Linked DNA regions of Homo sapiens: region 2 is linked to region 1. Evidence: fine-mapped expression QTL. Tissue or cell type: sun-exposed skin. Region 1 holds a variant in brackets; the other region holds the start of a gene. All regions are shown on one strand. Distances are from middle to middle.

Evidence for each region. PIP is the estimated chance that this variant, and not a neighbour inherited with it, causes the effect.
Region 2: PRXL2A starts here. The variant in region 1 is fine-mapped to the expression of PRXL2A in sun-exposed skin (GTEx, PIP 0.98).

The regions. Positions count from the first base shown.
Region 1 is chr10:80,429,625-80,437,727 of GRCh38, reverse strand. It overlaps PRXL2A (peroxiredoxin like 2A), which reads right to left. Exons shown (of 6, transcript NM_032333.5): 6 at 613-5,742. The coding sequence ends at 5,629. Among named protein-coding and RNA genes, the nearest start is that of TSPAN14, 21 kb to the left of the region's middle. The variant T/C (reference allele first, on the strand shown) is at 3,572.
Region 2 is chr10:80,405,515-80,413,617 of GRCh38, reverse strand. It overlaps PRXL2A (peroxiredoxin like 2A), which reads right to left and starts at 5,067. Exons shown (of 6, transcript NM_032333.5): 1 at 4,975-5,067. RefSeq lists enhancers at 2,774-3,273, 4,120-4,713 and a silencer at 4,999-5,288.

The sequences.
Region 1 (8,103 bases):
GGGATCTAACCCACTATCATCCTCAATTGTTACTGTCTTCAAAACAAAATGACAAATCCTCCTTTAAATGTAGAAAGGATTTGAAGGGTTAAATGAGAACAAATCAACTTTCTTTCCCTTCCCCTCCCAAACATAAACTGACAAATACACACCTTCTTGCTTGCCCCATGGGGCACTGGCAACCCAGAATGGAGGGAGGGCAGCTAGTGCTGGGAAGAAACTGCAGTCTGCCCTGACTGCATCCACCCTCTATCCTCACAGCCCCTACAGCCTCTTCCCCACAGCTCACCTTCCCTGCCCTCCACTCCCCTACACTGCAATGGTATGCTTTGCTCTGGGAAAGAGAGGAAGCAGACACAGGCATTGCTTTTGAGAAATCTGCATACTGGGAGAGAGGACATAGAACCAGGTAAACAAAACAGACTAGACTCCTCCGTTTTCCCCTAGCCATGCTTCGCTATCCAAATCTCTGCCTTGGAAGTTCCTCCAGCTGGGGGTTCCCCATGCACCCCTGTCCACACCATCTGTGACCCTTGCCACTGCTAGGGCCAAGGAAAAACTCGCCCTTCACCCGCTGCAGACTTGCTGAAAAAATCACTGACAAGAGGCAAATTAACAGGAGAAAAAGCAAACAAATTTATTTGATCATAATTGTATGTGAGCCCTCAGAATGAAGACCCCAAGATACAGGGGAATTGTCCATTTTTATGTTTAGGTTCAACAGATTATGGACTGTGTAGAAATATGATTGGACAAGAAGGGTATGATCTAATAGTAATAGACTGAGAGGGGAAACCCAGCAAGGCTGTCTAGATTCTTCTTGGCCTCTCTGTGCAGGATTCCTTCCTTCTGGGCACGGGGTGGGACCCTCTCTGGAATGGGTATCTTACGACAGTCAAACACGGTAGGTCAGATCATTTCTTTCCAACCAGTTTTTACACAGAAAGGGGAATGGGGAGTGAGAGGACTATTTTTAGGTTTTATGGCTGGCTTTGGGTAAAACCGGTTCTGGTTTCTGATGACCTGCCTTGGGGAAGAGGGATTCTAGTTTCTATGGGTAGCCTTGGGGGAGAATGAAAAGCCAGAAACAAGAGGGCAGGAGAAGGTCAGAGAGAAACTTTTGCTTCTGGGGCTGCTTCTGAGGCCTTCCTTTTAAAGTTATCAGAGATGATCAGGGGCATCCTGGCTCCAGGTAAGGTCTCCTGACGTGAGTGTGCTGGTCTTCCACACTGGATGCCGAGCCTTTTAAAGGGTGGTTTTCAACCTTGGCTGCATATTGGAATCACTCCAGGAGCTTTAAGAAATATTGTTGGCCTGGTGCTGTGGCTCATGTCTGTAATCCCTGAGCTTTGGAAGGCTGAGGCAGGATGACTGCTTGAGCCCAGGAGTTCGAGACCAGCCTGTGCAAGATAGTATAAGAGCTTGCCTCTACAAAAAATTTAAAAATTTGTTGGGTGTGGTAGTCCACGCCTGTAGTCCCAGCTACTAGGGAGGCTGAGGTGGGAGGATATCACTTGAGCCCAGAAGTTAAGGCAGCAGTGAGCCATGATTGCATTACTGCACTCTAGCCTAGGTGACAAGCAAGATTCTATCTAAAAAAAAAAAAAAAAAAGTTGCTTGGGGCCTACCCCAGAGATTCTGATTTAATAATTTTTACACTGCACCCCGCCCCCAACCCCCGCACCAGGTGATTCTACTGTGTATCCGAGATTGAGAACCACCAGCTTTACAGCAAGGACATTTTCTTACGTTCTTTGAATTTTCTTGCATTTCTTTGCATGTGGATTCTCAGTTTATCAAATAAATAAAAAGGAAACCTGCAAATGCTTGTCAAAGGCTGCTGAAACTTCAAGTCCAAAGCCCACAGAGATTAATGACTTTAATCTGTATAGTCCTTTAGAACCATGCTTCTCAAAGTGTGACCCATGGACCAGCAGAACATCAAGATCACCTGGAACCTGTTAGAAATGCAGAGGCTGGCCACGTGTGGTGGCTTACACCTGTAATCTAAACACTTTGGGAGGCCAGGAGTTTGAGACCAGCCTGGGCAATACAGGGAGACCCCCATCCCTACAAAAATAAAATCTGTTGGGTACGGTGGCATCCACCTGTAAGCCCAGTAACTTGGTAGGCTGAGCCAGAACAGCTTGCAGCCAGTTTGCAGCTGCAGTGAGCCATGACTGGGGCCACTAATTACACTCTAGCCTAGGTGACAGAGCAAGACCCTGTACATAAAGAAAAAAAAAAAGCAGAAACTCAGGCCCACCCAGACTGCCCACTGGAATCTTGAGAGCTGCAAATCATTGATTTTCAGCACAAACAATTTTGCTCACCCCGGACACGGAGAGACTTGAACAAACACTAGCATAGTTTCTAGCAGCTCAAGGCCCTGTCTCAGGGATAACCCAGGCCCCTTTGGGTCCCTGCCTGGGGAAGCTCAAGGCTGCCAAAAGAATTTACCATTTGTTTCAGCCAATGCCTGATCATAGGTTTCTAATCTCCCTCGTTTTTCTTGAGATGGAGTCACACTCTGTCACCCAGGCTGAAGTGCAGTGGCGTGATCCCGGCTCACTGCACCCTCCGCCTCCTGGGTTCAAGCGATTCTCCTGCCTCAGCCACCCGAGTAGCTGGGATTACAGGTGCGCGCCACCACAACAGGCTAACTTTTGTATTTTTAGTAGAGACAGGGTTTCACCATGTTGGCCAGGCTGCTCTTGAACTCCTGACCTCAGGTGATGCACCCACCTTGGCCACCCAAAGTGCTGGGATTATAGGCATGAGCCATGGCACCCAGTCCCTCCCTCTTCTTAGAGGACATACTTTATAAAATTTACAATTGTAAATCCTTTCTGTCCCTTTGGGGGATATATGTATCTTCTGCTGCACAGGAATGTGTTTCTCACTTTTTCTGGGAGCCATCCCTTTGTCATATAATTATCAGGAATGATAAGGCCGACTCCTGGTCTCTGTGGGAGGCTAGGATCCTAACTTTGATAAATAAATTTGAGAGTTAGTAGACACAGATAGCCGAATCACATTGACCAATCTCCTTACCAGCTTTTTGTAATTTTGCACTTCCCTAGTTCTATTTGAACCTCCTCCCTCCCCTCTTTAAAATTCCATCACCTCTGCACAGATTGGAGCTAAGCTCAGTTCTATACTGAGGACTCTCTCCTTCTGCAGTAGTTATTGAGTAAAATCTGTCATTATTGCCTTTAGCGTCCAGCTTTTTAAGTCTCCATTTTAATAAGGTCCTTATGTGATGTGCATGTACATTACAGTCTGAGAAGCAGTGTCATAATATTTATCATTCCCTCAGTGACTTATCATAAACAGCCCTGAATGGGAAGGAATCACGCCCATTTTGCCAATGAGTTAGATCTTTGCTTAAGATCACACTGGTAAACTAGAAATTGATTATGCCTCATGACTCAATCCAGTGCTCTTTCCAAAATGACATGCTAATCAGAAAGAGAAGACCACACTGCACGTGAGGACCCAGGGGAAAAAAGTTGGTGAGAGCTCACAAAAAACCAAACATGTTTCTCTTGATGCATCTCCATTGGTGCAA[T/C]GTCCTCTCAGGTTTTTTTTTTTGATATGGAGTTTCGCTCTTGTTGCCCAAGCTGGAGTGCAGTGGCACGATCTCGGCTCACTGCAACCTCTGCCTCCTGGGTTCAAGCGATTCTCCTGCCTCAGCCTCCCAAGTAGCTGGGATTACAGGCATGTACCACCCCGTCTGTCTAATATTTTGTATTTTTAGTAGAGATGGGGTTTCACCATGCTGGCCAGGCTGGTCTCGAACTCCTGACCTCAAGTGATCCTTCTACCTCGACTTCCCAAAGTGCTAGGATTACAGGCGTGAGCCACCACACCTGACCTCAGGTTCTTCTTTAGTTGCAAGAGAACTGTTTCACCATCAAGTGTCTTAGGTATTAAAGTTCTAAGTTTAGGTACTGAGTTATCCTATCAGTAGCTGGAGTCCCAAGGATGACAGGTACCAACCCTGTGCAAGTACCAAAGGCTATGGCCTCAAATGCTGCAGAAGCCCAGCCCTTTAAGGGCCCATGCATACCCCATGCAACCACTGCTACATGAAGTCAGGTGCAGGCATGGTCTTAGTGGGTCTTAGTCCCGAACCACTCAACCCTAACTCACTCTGCATACTCAATCCCGATGCTCTCCTACTTTCCCAGCTTTACCTCCAACATCAGTATCCATTCTTGCTTTCCTGGGTAAACACTGATTCCTTTCTCCTCCTGGCTGGGCCAGTCCCCTGGGTAAACACTATTTCCTATTTCCACCCCCACCTTTCTACTCCTGGGCCAGTTTGATGCCTTGAGTAGACTCCCTGTGGCCGAGCTCCCTGGTAGGTCTTGATGATGTCACTCAAACTTACACGACAAAATTCAAACAAAAAAGATAAAGTTATATTTCATCATCTCTATGTCCTTTCTTCTGATTTGCCAAATTAGGCTAAAAGACCAATAGAAAAACAGCTACCAATTTTAAACACCAAAGTCATTCCTCTAGGAAAGACAGCAAAATTACTAACGTGAATGACAGGATGAATTTTTCCTGGTCATTTTCAAACCACTTAGATAGCTAGAACCAGAGGAATCCCCCGAGGCACTTTACCCCTCAGCCATGGAGAATGCTGACTTTTTTTACTTTCAGCCAATTATATGGTAAATATAATTATTAGTTTTATCAGAAAATCTTATACATACAGGTGATTTCTGATGCATAATTTTATTAAAGCCAGAGATGGACATTTTTTCTAGAGAAACAGATCTCTGAGGTTAGAATGGAAGATAATGAAACAAGAGATTTCACTTTATAATTTACCTTTGTCAAACTATCCCAGAGCATGTCAATTCTATTATGAAAGTATTACTTTGACATCATATAACCAATTATTAATAGAAAACACACATGCCAAAAAACCTTAAATTTTGTAATCTTCAAGTCAATCATCAACTTTTCTTGAATTTTTGAAGACCCGAAAAGAAAAATAATTTCAAACAACAGCACTCAAACATCATATGCATTTGTAATGAGGCACAGCAATCAATTTTTTTTTTTTTTTTTTTTTAGTTAGAGTCTCAGTCACCCAGGCTGGAATACAGTGGTGTGATCTCAGCTCACCGCAACCTCCACCTCCCAGGTTCAAGTGATTCTCCTGCCTCAGCCTCCCGGGTAGCTGGGACTACAGGTGCCTGCCACCACACCCGGGTGATTTTTGTATTTTTAGTAGAGACGGGGTTTCGCCATGTTGCTCAGGCTGGTCTCGAACTCCCGACCTCAAGTGACTTGCTCACCTTGGCCTCCCAAAGTGCTGGGATTACAGGTGTGAGCCACTGCACCCAGCCTGGCAGTCAATTTTAAGCCTCCTATTTCCCAGGTTTTAGCTTAATAATCCTCATTAGTTTTTCAGATTTTTGTCAGTCTTGTTTTGGGGCTATTTTGCCTTAGTGGGCCTAAACAGAATATTAAAATACATTAATAATCCATACTGAGAGTAGAGTATAAATGGGTTTCTCACTCCTTAGGGACACGAGTGGAAACAATACATCCCATGAACACAGGTGAATGTCCCTGGTTATCCCTGAGCTGGGCAGTTTCACACAATCATTTTTTCTCTGAGGCCAAAGTCTGTGGTTTGATCATCTTAGCAGCTTCCAGAACAGAAAGTAGGTTTACTTTGTCTCCAAATTCTTTTTCTCGGTGCTCAAGAAGAATGCCCTAAAAGGAAACAAGAGATAATGTCAGTCCTCATCCTAAATCGTTCGTTCATGAGACAGGCATCGAGGACCAGCTGTCTGTCAAGCCTTTTGCTTGAATAGCAAAGGACACAGATCCAAATATGGCCTGGCTCCTGCCCTCAAGGAGTTCAGTCTTTGAGGGAAGATAGACCGGAGAAGGCCACATCCATCTGGCCTGTACCAGCAGCTCTAGAAGCAGGAAGTCAGAAGTGATAAAGCATGACAAGGGCAATCAGGGAAGGCCTCACAGAGGCACGGAGGGTAACCAGGATGTCTACAAGTAGAGATGCAGGTAAAAGAACATACCAGGTGAAGAGAAAAAAATGAAGCTAACACAGAAAGGCCCAAAGGTGTGGAAGTGGAGCTCAGAGGTTAGACTTTGGAAGGCACTGAATGACCATCTAAAAGAGAGACCCTCATTTTTCTTTAGTCTTCTAAGAAACTGGAAGCCACTTTCTTCTCATACAGTGAAAAAAAATGCACTAAGACACAAGATACCCCAAAGTTATCTAAAGTTGGAGGTAGTAAAAAAAAGACAAAATAACATGTTTGAGATCAGCATCAAGGAATCCTTGTTAGAGTTCTTTGATTCATTACATCTGGAAACTCATCTTAAAAAGAAAATCTGTAAATACACTGTGTCATTATTTATAAAGACTTAAAAAAAAAAAAAAGGCCCACCACACTGCAGAGATTATGGGCAAGCAGATCAGAAAATTATATTTACTTGCTCAGTAAACCATAATACAGACATTAAAAATACTAATAGGCTGCGTGCTGTGGCTCACACCTGTACTCCCAGCACTTTAGGAGGCTGAGGTGGGCGGATCACTTGAGGTCAGGAGTTCAAGACCAGCCTGGCCAACACGGTGAAACTCGGTCTCTACTAAAAATACAAAAATTAGCCAGGTACGGTAGCTCAAGCCTTTAGTCCCAGCTATTCAGGAGGCTGAAACAGGATAATCCCTTGAACCTGGGAGGCTGGGAGGCGGAGGTTGCAGTGAGCCGAGATCGCGCCACTGCACTCCAGCCTGGGCGACAGAGCAAGACTCCATCTAAACAAACAAACAAACAAAAACACGAACAAAAAACTAACAATATATAGTGACATAGGAAAATGTTCACAATATACTGTTAAATGAAAAAAGAACATCTAGTACAATTTTCTAGAGCAAAGCAAAACAAAAGGAAAGGCCATTCAGCTTTGTTCCAGTGGATTTTCCACGGTGGCTGAGCTCATAGGATGGTTTTCCCCACCTTCTATGTTCTGCTGTTTTTAAATTTTCTGTAGTGCAAACACACTTTTTATTTATTTATTTACAGACAGGGTCTTGCTCTGTTTCCCAGGCTGTAGTTCAGTGGTGCGATCATAGCTTACTGCAGCCTTGAACTCCTGTGCTCAAGAAATCCTCCTGCTTCAGCCTCCCAAGTAGCCAGGACTACAGGTGCATGTCACCACGCCGGCTAAACTTTTTTATTCTTTATAGAGATGGGGTTTTGCTATGTTGCCCAGCTGCTTCTTCTTTAAGAATGCTTTCAAGATTATTATTAAAAAGAAAATTCAGGCAGGGTGCGGCGGCTCACGCCTGTAATCCCAGCACTTTGGGAGACCAATGTGGATAGATCACTTGAGGTCAGGAGTTTGAGACCAGTCTGGCCAACATGGTGACACCCTGCCTCTACTAAAAATACAAAAATTAGCTGGGCATGGCAGCGGGTACCTGTAATCCCAGCTACTCGGGAGGCTGAGGCAGGAGAATCGCTTGAACCCGGGGGGGTGGAGGTTGCAGTGAGCTGAGATCGTGCCATTGCACTCCAGCCTGGGCAACAAGAGTGAACCTCTGTCTCCAGAAAAAAAAAAAAAAAAAAAAAAAAAGGAAATCCCCACCACCCCAATTTTAGACTACAAAAACTCTACACCCAACAAGAACTGAAGTAAGTCCTGAAGTTCAGCTAGCCAGTTAACCTTCCGCCTAGGAGAATGAAGGCCAGGGGCTCCAGGGAATACGAACAAAAGTCAAACACACCTAGCAACATCAGAAACATGCCAGTAGGGCCCATGAGCACCAGATGAGTCATCGCCAGGCAAGAAAAGGCTGGCAGGCATGCCAAGCCCTGCCCTAGAGGCCATGAGAAGGCAGAGGCGGGTAGGGGAAGGAACCCCACGTTGTCAGAGTGGGAAGAGGATGGGCAATCCACTGGGGAAGTGGCCTGCCCAAGCATAAGGACATCAGGAAGTGGTCGCTGGGAAACACCTCCAAGGAGAGGCTAGGGGCAGGGCAGGGCAGGAGAGGCTAGGGGCAGGGAAGGGCAGGAGAGGCTAGGGGCAGGGCAGGGCAGG
Region 2 (8,103 bases), 24 kb after region 1:
TTGCAGTCATGCAGATTATAACATTTCCCAAGTGCCACCAGACTCCTCTGCTATCCGGTGCAGACTAAAGAAGCAAAGCTCGTAACACAGCCCACATGTCATACTAGCGCAAATAAAAGAAGATGTCCTTTTCTCTGTGGCTCCTCGTGCAGCCTGCTCCCTTGCCCCATTCCTCACCCCAGGCCTGGAAAGTCAGCTGGCACCTCTGAGGCCCCTCATCTGCTGTCTATTCTTTACCTCCTTTTGCTTTCCCTTCCTTTTCTGCCACATCGGTGGCTTCCCTCAACCCACACTCCCTTCCTGGGTGACTTCCAGCACTTCTCCCACCACTTTGTTATTGACTTCCAAGTTCCTATTGCTGTTCTGACCCAAAGTTTCCACTTGGGGGTTTTGTAGGTGTCTTGGTTGTACCACATCCAAAACTAAAGTCGATTTCTCTGCTGGAGTTCCATGGCTCAGTAGATGGGGGGGCAGGGAGGGGGGACAGTGGGGGACAGGGGTTCACATTTTACTGTTCATTTGCCTTCACTGCCTACATCGACTCAGGAAGTTCTGTCCATCTTCTAAAATGTATCTGCTACCCATCCTCTTCTCGACCTCACTGCTGCTGCCCAAACCCAGGATCCTATAACTCTGTCCCTAGCCTATTTCAAGAACCACAGAATGAATCTGGCTTGGTTCTAGTCTGGTCCTCTATAGTTTATTTTCCAAGCCGTAGTCAGAGCGATCCCAGCACACCCCCACCTGATTACACCTTTCCCTTGTGTTCAGACTCTCACTAACAATAAACTCCTCAGCAAGCCAGCTGATGGGGCCCTCCACAGCTTGGCTTCAGCAAGTGTTGCTCATGTTGTTTCCTTTGCCCGGGATGCCCCCCTCTGACCCAGGCCAACCACGTAAATGCCTACTTATTCATAAGGCCCAGCACACATAACACTTCCTCTCCAAAGCCTTTCCTGAAAGCCCTGACAACTGACTGCTCACTGACCTCTTCTATAGCGTGCATGTGTGTGCGCACACACCCATAACCCTGCACAATGCACAAATGAATTGTGTAAATTTTAGTTATTTACATGTCTGTCTCCACAATATGTTGGCACAATGTGTTGTCGTCTTCATTCCTGCATCCCCAGCACTCAACACAGATCCTGGTAATTATCAGGCATTAAATGTTAATTAAATTATCTGAATTTTACTCTTAGAATTCCACAGTGAGGCAGACTTGGAACTTATAACTACTCAATTCCAATTTCAGTTCAGTATGAAAGGCAATTTTGGACAGGGCTGGCTTGATATTAAAGAAAACACTCTAGCTTGGGACTTAGGTAACCTTAGGCTGGGTCCTCGCTCTACTGCTCACTAGCAGGGCAATCTGACTTAAGGTATGAAGACACTCGGGGCCTGGATCTCATCATCTATACAGAGGAAGGAACTCAAAATTCTATGAGGTTGTCTTAGCTCTGACATCCAAAGACTCTAAAGTACCATGTGACTGCAACTACAGGGATCTGATGTCTAGAAAGCCATGGGAACCCCTGCCACCACTGTTCTTCTGCTGGGTGTGCACATTCACCCTGCCTCCTTTGCTGGGCCTAACTCCTGACTGTTCCAGGAGCTGCCTCTGGGCAGGAACTGATAAAGTCTTAATGAAACAAAGTATCAGCACTGGCTGAGTTAAATCATGTCTGAAACAAGTAGAGACAGCATCATATTCTAAACATCAAGGGTACACCTGCCCAGCCCAGCCCCACCCAGGGAATCGTCCCTCTTCAGAATGAGCTGGCCTGAGGCAGAGATAGGGGAGAAGCAAGAAAAGGTGCTGAGGGAGACAAAAAACTAAGAGTGCACATGGGCCTCCTTGCCTCAGGCCCTCAGTGAACAAGTCTTGAAAGGATGCTTCATCTTCCTTCTCTGGTCTCCTCTGTTTCCCTCTCCTTCCCTCAAAGCGCTGGTTCAGCTCATTTTACTGAGCAAATGAAGAAACTAAAGCTCAGAGAAGGAGCTGGCTAGTCCAAGGTCACATGGGCAGGGCAGGTTGTCAGTGGCTGCACTGGGACTCAGGTTTGGGTCTCCCAACTTCCAGTCCATGACTGTTTATCCTGCATCAGACACGCTAGGTCCTGGGCAGCCAGCCAAGGGCCAGTGGCCTCTAAGGCTGGAATAGCATGGCAGTCTGGGCTCAGGAAGTGGGGCCCTGCAGGTCTTGAAGCCTGTTCACTGGCCTCAGGCAAGCTAAGAGCAAGACTGCCCGTAAACAGGGCCTGGGAAATCTGCTGCCTGGAGAGAACATCATCAGCCTCTCCCAAGCCCAATCCTTGGTAAGCAGCTTATAATCTGAAGCCAAATGTCTTAAGGGTCTCATTGCCTAGTCTCCGCTGAGAAGCCATTCTGCACCTCTCTTCCCCACAATAACAAGACTCTGTCCATCCTTGTCTAGCATACTGATGATGCAGGCACACAGAGCCTTATGAGCAACAGATGCCCTTCCACCCACCCTTGTCTTCATATACCACAAAATCAGTCACTTGCAATGAGCTCTCACCTACCTGCCTCAGTCTCCAACTCTCAGCCCTGCTCCTTGGGGTGTGTATCTGCCTGGTTCTGGCCCAGTCCTACTCTCAAATGCCAGATTCAGAAACCTCTGAATAGATGCTGAAAGCAGCACCAGCCCCCACATTCCTCACTCTTGGGCGTATCTCAGGGTTTCCCAGTAGCTGATTATGTCCTCTTGTTTCCTCAAGCTGTAGGGCCCCCCACCCCTCAAAGAGCAAGCCATTCTAATCTCACTTGCACAGCCTCCTGTCTGGGCTCAGAACTCCGGCTTCATCAAGTTATATGGGTGTGGATAGGAAGGCAAGGCAATACCACAGAAGACACTGGGCTAAAAGCCAATAATCCTGGGTTTTCTCTCTTTGACTCTGAGAGTTATTTTATCCCTCTGAACCTCAGTGTCTTCTTAAAAACAAGGGCACTTTAAAGAGTTGTCATAAAGATTATATAAGAAGAGCAATTTTTAATGCGGTAACGCACTAGAAAACGGCAAAGCAGCATTATCTTTCTCTCTTTTGCAGGGCTCAGATTCACTCGTGCCCCTATAAAGACAGGATATCTGAAGCAGGACAGGCACAAAATAGTGAACTTCTGCAGCTGTGTCACTGCAGGCCTGCTTTCTGGTGAACGTTCTAGGTCTGGTGGGAACACTGGCTTGTCTCAGCCCCTCTGGCCTGCAGGCCCGCTCCATGCTATTCCTGTAGCAGCTAACACTGCCTCCTGCACTAGCAGTGCCAGAGAAGGCAAAGGACACTGCCCAGCTGTAATTTCCCTGTGCCAGAGGCCACTGAGCTCAAAGGTGAGGCTGGCTCTCTGCACAGAACCTCAGGATGGTTCTTGCCACACAAGCCACAGCAGAGAGACTTGGAGCTTCTGCTCAACATTTCACAAAGAAGCAAGAACCCAACTGGCAGGACAGCTGCCCTATTGCTTAGATAGGGACAGAGCCTGGGGCTTGAGCCCTAGAGTTCCAGTCCTATCCAAACTTTCTGAGCACCATTTAAATGACACGAGATGAGAAAATCATCAGAAATGTCTTTTGTACCCCTTCAGAAGTAATGCAGAAGGTCTCAACTAAATGACATGCTCTTATAAAAGACGGGGATATAGGAAAGGCCCACACCAAGAATAATATCTAACTTTAATTCTTGCAAGCTGTATAAACCTGGACAAGGAACTGTTTTGCATCAGTAAAATGGGAATGCTTCCTTAATTACCTTCTACAGAGTTGCAAGAATCAAAGGATTAAATGTATAGGAGGTGCCTTGTGAGGTACCTTACAAAAAGTGCAATAAATACGATGTATAATTCTTCATTTCTAGAGCAATGATTACCCTCAAAACGTTATTTGTACACAAAATGAAGAGTTTTCTGATGAATGAGTATGGTAACGAGTCGGGGTCTGCAGTGGAAATCCCAATCCTCATTCTCCAAAGCTGGGCCCGAGCAGGAGCATTCAAGACTATTCAAGCTGACTTTTTCACAATGCTTTTCAAAACAAATCTTGATTATTTTCTTTTTGAAAAACCACCTGCCAGGTTCAAAGGAAAATACATTAAAATAAAACAAACAAAAAAGCTGAGTTCTGGGTTGCTGGGCTGTGCAGACAGCATGATGTGGCAAGGAAAAGAGGCGCAGGAGCAGCTGGGAACCCCGGTCCGGCAGTGGACTCCCGGGTGTGCCTCCTTCCCACAGCCCTGGACCGGCTGGGCCTTGACTTCCCTTCCTTTGCCTCTAACCATCTCCACCTGCGCCTTCACCTCCCGCTCCAGCAACAACCCTGGGGGCAGATTGTTCATCTTTTCATTCCTAGACCTCAGCAGGGCTGTTAAGTTTACAACTGGGCTCTACCCAATTTAAAGTCAGGCGTTTGTGACTCTTGGGAAAGAGGGGGAACAGGTGCCTCCGAAACGCTGAACAACGCTAGAAACCGTGCCCTCTTAAAAGACACGACCCTAAGCGGGCACAGAGACGAGGACGAGGACTGCCAGGTCCGCACCTGGGGCTGGTCCAGCAGGGCGGCCCCCGGGCCCATGCTCCAGGGCAGGGCCCTCTCCTCTGTTCTTTGTCCCAACAATTCGCGAAGGTTGGCGCCACCGGCGTCACTCAAGGCTTGCGGGCGTGGACAGAGGGGGCCCTAGCCCGCCGCAGCAGCGCCGGGTCCCCGTCTCCGTTCTCCGACGTCTGGGCGCAGGGTTTTTCCATCGGCCGCCACGCAGGGTGGCGGAAGGGTCGTCGTCCTCGGAGGGAGCGCCAGCGCTGCGGCGGCTCCTAAGAAAGTTGGCGCGGGCCCGAGGGGCGCGCCTCACCAGCCCAGCACCCACCCTACCGGCCCTGCACTGCCTCAGTTTCCCCACCTACGCCGCGGCAGGCCCCGCCTACGGACATCACGTGCCTCGCGGAGCCCCGGCGCGCAGCACCTACCTCAAGTGCCTCCCTTCTGCCGGCCTTTTACCGCCCCGACGCCCGGGCGCTAAGGGGCCAAACCGCCCGGCCCGGAGGGTCCCAGGGGCGGGCCCCGCGCTTGCGCAGCCTCTAGCCTGTGCTGCATCGCGCGCTACCGCGCCACCGCCATGTGACCCGCCCCGCCCCCCGTGGGAGGAGCTCCGGGCCTGCCCCCGACTCGCCGACCTCCGGGCCGCGGTCTCCTAGCTCCGGTGGCGCTCGGGCGTGTGCCCCAGCGGTCCTTTTACGCACAGCGCTCGGTCGGTCCACTCCTCAAGTCCGCGAACCGAGGCCCCGACGCGTTCTTCAGGGCGCTGCCTAGGGCAAAAGAAGGCGCTGGACACCCCTAATGGAGCCTGGAAGCACCTGTCCTGCAGCCGAGGCTGGCCAACTTCCTTCCAATCTTCAGCCTGGTTTTGAATAGCTCTTTTGATAGGTTTTTTTTTTTTTTTTAACCTCCATGGGCAGGGGGAATCTAAAGGACCGACACATTCGATGAGCCCCTTCAAGCTGTATGTACAGATTCAGAATTTCCAACCTCAATCCTCCACCCACGTTCCCTTTCACTCCACAATGCCAGCTATGGGGCAGAGAACGGTGAGCCGCAGCCTTGCGGACTCCGGGCGACGCTGAGGCGGGTGTGTCACACACCGCTCATCCACTTACTCCTCCTGTTGGAAGTGCCCACTCTTTCATGAAAGTAGGAGGTTGTGTCCGGCGCGCTGGCTCACGCCTGTAATCTCAGGGCTTTGGGAGGATCGCTTGAGCCCAGGAGTTCAAGACCAGTCTGGGCACCATAGTAAGACTCCATCTCTACGTAAAAAACAAAAACTAGCCAGGCATAGTGGCGCGTGCCTGTATTTCCAGCTACTCTGGAGCTGAGGTGGGAGGATCGCTTGAACCCGGGAGGCGGAGGTTGCAGTGAGCCCAGATCGCGCCACTGCACTCCAGCCTGTCTTTAAAAAACAAAAAAAAGACCCTGTCTTAACAACAAAAAACAAAAAGTAGGAGGTTGGACTTTCAGAGACAGCAGAGCTGACTCACGATACATATTAGTGGTTGGCCGGGCTCGGTGTCTCATGCCTGTAATCCCAACACTTTGGGAAGCCAAGGCGGGCAGATCACTTGAGGGCAGGAGTTCGAGACCAGCCTGACCAACATGGCAAAACCTCGTCTCTACTAAAAATACAAAAATTAGCCGGGTGTGGTGGCGCGCACCCGTAGTCCCAGCTACTCAAGAGGCTGAGGCAGGAGAATAGCTTGAACCCCGGAGGTGGAGGTTGCAGTGAGCCGAGATGGTGCCACTACACTCCAGCCTGGGTGACAGAGTGAGATTCCGTCTCAAAAAAAAAAAAAAAAGACATATCGGTGACACAGTGCAAAGACCAGTCACAGGGCAGCATAAGGTGAAGTGGCAAAGCAGGCCGATGTCCGCCCGTCAAAGGTGGTCATTTGCCTGCAACACCTTCCCCCCTTCATCTGGGAGCTGCCCACAGGTGTACAAAGTCCAAAGGCTTCCGTGATTCACCTCCCTGACTTCCCACTCAGACTCCATGTTCCATGTAAACTTACAGCAACACTTGGGGAGCTTGATCTATTCAAGGGGGTCTCTCCTCAACCAAACTGTGAATTCCTCCACTTCACCTCTGGGACCCTAGAGCCTGGCCCAGGGACAGCGTGGAAATAAACTTAGAAAACGTGAGAGGTGGATCTAAGTTGTGGGGTAAGGGAGATCAGCCTGAGTGCCCATGCAGTTTTCCTGCAGGAGTTAGGCATATGATTTGAAGGCCAGAAAATATTTCGTATACTTTGGTGCAATGCGGGTGTAGTTTTATATATATATATATATATATATATATATATATGATATATAAGATATATATAAGATATATATGAGATATATAAGATATATATGATATATGTATAAGATATGTATGATACATATATCTCTCTCCAGAGGACCTTTCTTTCTTCTCCCTTGTTTCTCCTTACCTTGTGAAGAGGAGCGGGAGAAGGGTCAATCTTTCCATCCCAAAATAGGAAGTTCAAAGGTGAGGAGGGTTTGCAGGGAAGGCCACTTAGAACAAAACAGGAAGTCATTTCCTTGGGAAATGAGTTCTTGGAGACTGACCATTAATGACAGAGCCATTCAGGGGTTGAGGATAGCAGAATTCTGGGGTGGAAGGTCCCCTGAGGCTTTAACTGTGATGTAATTACTAATCACGTGCAAAAGTCATGCTTATATTTACACTTCGGTAACATCCTGAAGATCTGGACTTCAAAAACCAGGCTACATCTGATAGCTAATTAATATGCTCCTCACATGCCCACGTTTCTTTTTGTACAAGAAAGCACAGGCTGAACTCATTAAAAAACAGTCATTAGACCAGAAAAATAAGTTACAGGCAAGCAGGCGCAGGAAAACTTATTTACAAAGCTCAAGGACTAAAACCAAAAACCAAACCAAAACAAAAAACCTGAAGAATAAACCAAGAAAACCCACCAACCTGCCCAGCTTTTAAGAGAAAAATAATTTAAATTTTGTAAAGATTGTAAAATAGCCTTAGGTTCTGAATTTCAGGTGGTAGAAATTAAGGTTGACTAGAAGCTTTGTGATAACTTTAGATAATGTTACCATCTTGACAGGGGCTGGGAAACTTTTCTGTCCCTCACAAGTCCCATAGGGCAGGCAGAAAACACTGCTTGCAGGAGGCAGATCTGGGTAAAGACTCCTGACTTTTTCAGCGTCATAGCACTTCTAGATTCAGCTGGCTTCAGCTTCGTCTGCTACTCAGCAGTGACTGAAGTAACATGATCTTTTTAAGCTTATGGCCCTGTGGTGTCTGGGCTCGCTGGGAACAGTCAGGAAGCAGCTAGCATCAAGATGAAAATAGAGCAAAAACTGATACTTCACTTCAATATGTCAGGCCCAGGTTACCATTCTGTGGATGGGTAAAAGCGAAATCAAGAACAAGACTTGTATGTGAATCTCAAAAATAGATGTGCATAGATCAGCTTCAAATATTTTCTCTATATGCCAATATCCCTGAATTCAGCTCTTTCTTATTTGTTTTAAGCATAAAAAATCCTATACTTCCACAGTGTGTC